2 linked regions of the Homo sapiens genome follow. The protein of the gene in region 2 purifies or fractionates together with the protein of the main gene of each other region. This does not show direct contact. Each region holds a gene or a part of one and is shown on either strand. Other genes may lie near its edges.

Region 1 (3,811 bases), on a different chromosome or scaffold from region 2:
GGCCACAACGGAGCATGTGGGAGCCTGCAAGGTGCCACACAGGACTCCGATCCCGGCTTCCCGAGGGGCCCTTCCCCTTGGAAAATAACCCTATGAAGGCCTGGTATGAACTAGAGTATCTGTACATGGAGACCCCCCAACCCTACACCATCAAGAGATGGAAAACTTGGGGTGGGGGTTCGGAATGGCTCTGAGGCTCAGTGGCACGAGGCAGGCCAGTCGCGAGCAGCAGGGGCCAGGGGTCAGGAGCCAGGCAGGACCTGGTGGACACCTCACCCTGGTTCTCTGCACCTCCTGGAGGCCCAGGAGTGCCCCATTTCCCCTCCCACACCCCAAGAGGCAACATGAGTGCACAGGAAAGGGAGAAGGGGGCCACCCTGCCACTGCACTTGCAGATGGGCTGAATTCCCATGAGGCCTGCATTCCGAGGGGACAGGCGTCGTCAAGGGTGAAGGGGGCCGCCCTGCCACTGCACTTGCCGATGGGGCTGAATTCCCACGAGGCCTGCATTCCGAGGGGACAGGCGTCGTCAAGGGAGAAGGGGGCCGCCCTGCCACTGCACTTGCAGATGGGGCTGAATTCCCACGAGGCCTGCATTCCGAGGGGACAGGCGTCCTCAAGGGAGAAGGGGGCCGCCCTGCCACTGCACTTGCAGATGGGCTGAATTCCCACGAGGCCTGCATTACGAGGGGACAGGCGTCCTCAAGGGAGAAGGGGGCCGCCCTGCCACTGCACTTGCAGATGGGCTGAATTCCCACGAGGCCTGCATTACGAGGGGACAGGCGTCCTCAAGGGAGAAGGGGGCCGCCCTGCCACTGCACTTGCAGATGGGCTGAATTCCCACGAGGCCTGCATTCCAAGGGGACAGGCGTCGTCAAGGGGGAAGGGGGCCGCCCTGCCACTGCACTTGCGGATGGGCTGAATTCCCACGAGGCCTGCATTCCGAGGGGACAGGCGTCGTCAGGGAATGGGAATCTTTGGTGAAGGGGATACGACAGGGAGTGAGGAGCCTGATGGTCAGCGAGGGACCTCTCTGAGGAGACACCTAAGGCTACCATGCAACGGGACCAGCCAGCAGGAAGACATCCAGGCAGCAGATGGCATCGCCAGTGCAAAGGCTCTGGAACAGGAATGCACACATGACAATCAGGCAGCAGGGAGGCAGCTGGTGGGCCTGAGACAGAATAAGGGTGGATATCATGGGATATGAGGCTCCATGGGGCTCTGGAAGTGACTGCTTTGAGGATGGGACCCTGACCCAGAGCGAAACAAGGATCCCTTTCAAGGTTCTGAGCTGAGCAGTGCCAGGGCATTTTTCTTTTTTCTTTTTTTTTTTTTTGAGACAGAGTCTCACTCTGTTGCCCAGCCTGGGGTGCAGTGGCGCGATCTCGGCTCACTGCAAGCTCCCCCTCCCGGGTTCACACCATTCTCCTGCCTCAGCCTCCTGAGTAGCTGGGACTACAGGCGCCCGCCACCACGCCCGGCTAATTTTTTTGTATTTTTAGTAGAGACGGAGTTTCACCATGTTAGCCAGGATGGTTTCCATTTCCTGACCTCGTGATCCGCCCACCTTGGCTTCCAGAGCATTTTTCAAGGATCCCTCTGGCAGCTCACTGGAGTCAGGGTGGGAGCTGGAAGACTGGCTGGGGGCCATGGGGGTTGCCCAGAGAGGTATGGTGCCCAGACTGGGTGGTGGCTGTGCAGGCTGTGAGCAGAGGGACTGATGAGGTTTGAGGTGAGCTGGGGGGTGAGGTGGGGGGTCGGGGGGTCGTACAGGGCAACTGTGGATTTCAGCTTGGGCAGCTAGGCGGGTGGATGAGCTTGGAGTGAGACTGGTCTCGGTTTTGGCCATGTGGAGTTGGACATCTGAGGGTGAACTGAGTGAGGAGATTGGTGTGCAAGGGTCTGGAGTTGTGAGTGATGCTTCTGGCCTGAGGGAAAGGGAATGGGGTGAATGGAATAGCAGCCAGCCTTGAGCCTGGAGTGAGAAGCAGAGACCAGGCTGGCCAGGGTCTGAGGGCTTCCTGCGGACGCCACGCAGGTGAGCACAGCTGCCCGTGGGGCAGTGCACCTCCTGTGGCAGCTGGCTTTGTGCCGCATCTGCAGTGGTGGGGGATGGGGTTACCACCATGGACCGGAATCTGGCCCTATACAGCTCCCCGTCTGTCAGTCTCCCCATGCCACAGCACCCCCAGCTCCACAGCAAAGGTCTGGACACCTCAACGCCTCCCTTCTGGTCCTCCCATGGTGTACAAGATCAAGGCAGAGCCTTGGCAGGAGTCTACAGCCTTTGGGTGTGGGCTCCTGCTCCGCCCCGCCTCTGCTGGTCCCCACCTGCTCCTGTACCCCGGGCTGGGTGTCCAGCAGGAGCAGCAGGAGTCCCTGGGGTCCACCCCACCCGGCCCCTACCACCTCTCCTCCCCTCCATCCAAAGGACACACTGGTAGCAAAGAAGTATAACTTAAGAGGCACTTGGATAAGAATTAAATGCCCAGAAGGTGCATTCCAAAGTCCCACGGAGTTGGAGTAGCGGGGCACGGTGACCTGGAGGAAAGTGAAGACCCAGCTGGGCTTCAGGTTTTCTCTGCAGAACCCCAAGGCGATAGCCCGGCAGCCCCTGACCCTAGCGGGGGGAGCCCCAGCATCAGAGATGTCCCTGGCCTGACACCCAAGGCGCCTCTGAGTGTCATCTGGCAGGGCCAGCCTCGCAGCGAGGGGAGCCCGGGACAGGGATCCCCGCCCCCAGGCCCAGGAACCCCGGGGTCAGTCCACAGGCCCGAGGGCCCACCCTCCGCCTGGCCCCCATTGGGAGGGGCCTTGAGAGACCGACGCTGGGGAGGGGACTGGGCCGGCGAGATGGAGCGCGCAGCCCACCCCCAGGGCCGGAGACGCAGACGAGCCACCGCCCAGCCCGGGAACGGAAGCCGCGGGGGCGCGTCAGCCCTTGTAGACCCCGCGCGGGGTGTCGCTGGGGCCGCGGCGGCCGCACAACGGGCTCATTCACCGCGCGGCCGCGGCTGAGCGGCCGCCCGGGTCCCCACGTCCCCGCCCCTGGGCCCGAGCGCGTGAGCCGCTAAGACCGCGCGGCTGCCGGGCCTGGTGAGTGCGCGGGGCGGGGCCGCGCGTGCATGGGGGTTCGCAGGCGGTGGGGGGAGACCGCGCGGGGTGGGGAGCAGGGCCGCGCTCTCCTGAGGGTGGGGGTGGGAGTGCGGGGCAGGGGCGGAGGCCGGGCCCGCTGGGCTGGGGGCGCGGGGCGGGTACAGACCCGCCTCTTGGGAGAACCTGCATCTGTGGCCGGGACGAAGGGGACACAGGTGCTAGAGGGTGCGGGCCGGGGCCTCCTCTTCTCCAGACCTCGGAGCTCGCCCACCCGCGGGAGGGTCTCTGGGAATAAACTCGGGTCCGGTCTCAAAGCCCTGTCGGCCGGGCTTCTTCCCACGGGTGGGAGGCAAGGATGCAAGGTCTCCTTTCCCAGTAAATGGACTCCAATGTAAAACGGCTGATTTAAAGACAAAACTAAGGAAGTAAGCGTGTGACACAAGACTGGCCAGGGGTTCAGGCGGGAGGGGGGTTCAGGAGGGAGGCGGATTCAGGCAGGTCCCAGTTGCTGGGGCCCCCACGCCCCCTGTCCTGCGTGGGCCAAGCGGGGAAGGAAGGAGGTGTTGGCAGCCCTGCGCGTGCACAGGCTCGGGGTAGAATGGGCTACCCACTCTCTCTGGCCAGCAAGGCCCCTGGACCCCCTGGGCACTCAGCCTCTGGGCCTGGCCACAGGACAGCACCAGCCACTGCCTCAATGCTCAGAGAAACTGAG
Region 2 (3,811 bases):
TAGCACTCCAGAGCTCCAGAGTTTAAGGTGAAATTTTAGGACACTGTGGCATGGGAGTGGGGGAGTAAAGGCAGGCATCTCAGCTCCCCACACTAAAACCTGTCAGAGCAGTTCCATTTCCCACGATGCTCTTAGGTAATAGGTTGTACAGTCTCCTGAAGTTTAATTTTAATTAAGTTTTAAATTTTTTTCTACCACAGATGTACTGTTCCATCTGGCCTTTGTTTCTCTGTTCTCAGAATGGAGACAATAACTCCATCCTCATTGTAGTCCACATTCAAATGGTGAATGGCTAATGCCCAAGGAACCCTAGAGACCCTGGGGGACAGACTGCCTCTCCTAGCTCTGGTGACCATCTCTAAGGAGTCTATCTTGGCTTTTGTTTCTATGCTACCTTCCTTTTCAAACTTCAGTAGGCATATGAATCACTTATGGATCTTGTTAAAATACAGGTTTGGAATCAGTATTCTGGGGTGATGCCCAAGATTCCCTCCCTCCCTCCCTCCCTCCCTCCCTTCCTTCCTTCCTTCCTTTCTTTCTCTCTCTTTCTTTCTCTTTCTGTTTTTTTTTTTTTTTTTTGAGACAGAGTCTTGCCCTGTTGCCCAGACTGTAGTGCAGTGGCGTGATCTAGGCTGACTGCAACCTCCACCTCCCAGGTTAAATAGATTCTCATGCCTCAGCCTCCCGAGTAGCTGGGATTACAGGCGTGCACCACCATGCCCAGATAATTTTTTCTATTTTTAGTAGAGACAGGGTTTCACTTTGTTGGCCAGGCTGGTCTTGAACTCCTGGCCTCAAGTGATCTACCTGCCTCAGCCTCCCGAAGTGCTGGGATTACAGGTGTGAGCCACGGCACCTGGTCAGATTTTGCATTTCTAACAAGTTTCCTGGGTGATGCCCACACTGCTGGCCAGCAGACCACACTTTGAGCAGCAAGACTTTAGAACTTCCATTTGGACCAGATACCCCATAGCCTGTGTCATGGGTGATGTTACCTGGTGTATCCGCTGGGGCCTCAGCTTGGCTGGAACAGAAGGCTGGGACTGAACCTGAGAAACAAAGTTAGAGAAGGTTTATCAAGAGGGCTGTGAGGTGAGAGGTGTCTTTTATTCTGTGAGAGTCAAATGAGAAGGGGAGAGACTTCTGGGACATAGACAGGGAAAAGGCTTCAGGAAGGAGGATGAACCCTGATGAGAAGCCAGGCCTATGTGAAGGGGTGGCCAGAGTCTAGGGCTACTTTCTGCAGAGGTGGAGGCTCTGGAGCTTCCTGCCATCCCTCCAGAAGAGAGAGCTCCTCTGCCATAGCCACTGATCAGAGTAGTTTGCCTGCAATTCAGTAATTCTTCCAGGGACCCCATGTGTTCTACCCATTCTGCTCTTTTTGGCTACTACTTCATTTCCACTCCAATACTGGGATTCTAGAGGAGCTGCCAATCATAATAGTGTATCTTCTTGGCTATAGAAATTGGTCCAAGCAGCAGCCACATGACCTTAACTTGGGCCAATCAGAGCTATTTCTGACATTCTTTAAATTGGAGTTAGAGGGAAGCACATTTTCTTCCCTGTCTGGTGTCGGAGCTGTTAGTATGTGTGGGTCTGGAGCTGCCAGCTGTTGTGTTGTGGTACACTCCTCCCCTCGCTCCCACCCCTTCCCTCAGCGGGCTGCAGTAGGAAGAGTTAAGCTGACTCAAAATACACAGTAGAGATGAAAGGTGGAGAGCTCTGATGACTTTTGAGCCTCTGGTGACATTTCTCCATTATGCCAGCTCTATCCCTGCCTTCCCCACAGATTGATTATTTAAGTGAAAAAATAATAAATCACTCTCCCTGCTCCCACATGCCTTTTTTTTTCTGTCTAAGCCAGTTTGAACTGGGCTTCTATTATTTGTGAGTAAAGAGTCCCAACTGACACCCCTCCCCCATTGCTCTGAGAAGAAATAAGATGCTGGCAGGGAGGGGTAGCACGGGATTGTGTGAGGGCAGAGAAGCCTCCACAAGTCCCAGGGAAATGGCCTAGCACTGGCGGACAACATTGATCTCGGAAACTCACACCGTCCTTTTCGCTTCCAAATGCACCAGCTGAAGATCCCAACGCACAGAAGGCAAACCATCAGGAACAACCCAATCCAAAGCTTTGTGTTTCTCTCAGGTCCTTTGAGGAGGAAATGAGTGATGTTAATTCAAATAATGACAAGACACACTGGAGCAAACAATGCACAGAACATGATGGCCATCCTACCTGCCCCTTAAAATCCATGACGTTGTGGAAAGTCTTTCTTTTCATTCATTCTACAACCATTTTTCGAGCAAGCATTACTCTAGGCAAGAGGTTATAGCAGTACCTGAGGCAGACAGTCCCTGGGTAGAGAGGTTTACGGCTTGCCCAGTGTCACAGTGTTTCAAGTGTCTGACCTGAGGTTCGAGTGCAGATCCTACAGCGCCCTTAATCGCCACATTACACTGCCCCGCTGTAAATGATATGAGGGGAGTTCCAGATTCCTGTTAAGCTGGACTCTAGATCTGTCTGCCAGACACAATCTGACCCAACATTGTCAGATCCTGGGTAGACCGTACCTTTTTTCTGCTTCCTTCTACGGAAGAGCAGAAGATAGAGCTCAGGGTTCGAAACCAGCTTTTATGGTGTGACCTTGGATAAGTCCCTTATCTTTTCTGAGCCTCAGTTTCTTTATCCATATAAAGGGGAAAAACGAGAATATCTACTCTGTAGGATTGTTGCGAAGATTGTGCAAAAATGCCTGAAGGCCTAGAATAGTACTTAGCATTTATTAAGGGCCACTGGGGCTTCTTTTCTAGCTCCCACTCACGCAGCCTTTGTTCCTGTGTGGTCCACATCCCTTTCCATATCAGCTTCCTATTGGCTTTTCTCCACAAGCCTGTAACTCTGTGCTGTTCAATATGGTAGCCACAAGCTATGCATAAGCCCTTGAAGTGTGGCTAGTATTACTGAGACACCAAATTGCTTCTTTTATTTAGTTTTAGTTTAAATTTAAAAATGGCTACTCAATTCCTTCTTGAAAAACTGATAAATATGCTTGGAATAACTTGGGTGCATAAATCTATTTTTTCAACTGTAAATTTTACGAAGTCTGAATATAGATTAAACACTTTCAGTGAAAATTTAGCATCGGAATCGAGACGTGCTCTAAGTGTAAAATACATACTGGCTCTCAAAGACTTAGTACAAAATAAAATGTAGTGTCTAATGAATTTTTTTGTATTGAATACACGTTGAATAATGATATTTTGGATATATTCAGTTAAATAAAACATATTATTAAAATAACTTTATTTCTTCTTGCTTTTTCTAACGTGGCTATTAGAACATTAAAATCACATGCGTGACTCTCATATATCTGTGGAAGCATGCCACTCTAAAGGGCTCTCACCCACAGCCTCTTACTGCACTTCATAAAGAATCAGTCAGGATGCAAACTCTTGGAGGCCCCAAGGTCCTGTGACCTGAGTAAATAGAGATGGAGAGAAACCTGAACAGATGTTCTCAGAAAGAAACTGGTGGGAACTCCTGCTGACAGGGTTGCTGGCTGTGCATGTGAGGTTGGGGTGATTTTCACTGCTTCTCCATGAGACATTGAGGTGTGATTCCCCTTGGGACACAACAGCTTCCTTCTGCAGCGGGGTCCATGTGTACATGACAGTGTTTCCCCCGTCCTCCACGGAGCAGGTCAGGCTGATCCTGCAGATGCCATCCTCACTGTGCCTGAGGCTCCACGTGATTTTGGGCTTCCTCAGCCTGCCTGTGAGGAGAGAGGCAGACTCCATGTGGAATCAG

What was found.
Region 1: the proteins of LY9 (region 2) and IDUA purify together in Homo sapiens (affinity purification with mass spectrometry; one large-scale study listed by BioGRID and IntAct). This does not show direct contact.

What each region holds. Positions count from the first base shown.
Region 1 is NC_000004.12:996,733-1,000,543, reverse strand, and holds part of IDUA (alpha-L-iduronidase isoform a precursor), read right to left. Parts: intron 2,180-3,811; coding exon of another isoform or gene 1,555-2,179; intron 1,121-1,554; coding exon of another isoform or gene 789-1,120; exon of another isoform or gene 480-788; intron 1-479. Other genes in the region: uncharacterized protein LOC124900646, read right to left, coding at 789-1,120, 1,555-2,179.
Region 2 is NC_000001.11:160,816,559-160,820,369, reverse strand, and holds part of LY9 (T-lymphocyte surface antigen Ly-9 isoform a precursor), read right to left. Parts: intron 3,777-3,811; coding exon 3,507-3,776; intron 2,153-3,506; coding exon 2,051-2,152; intron 1,050-2,050; coding exon 996-1,049; intron 1-995. UniProt on the Homo sapiens protein: Self-ligand receptor of the signaling lymphocytic activation molecule (SLAM) family.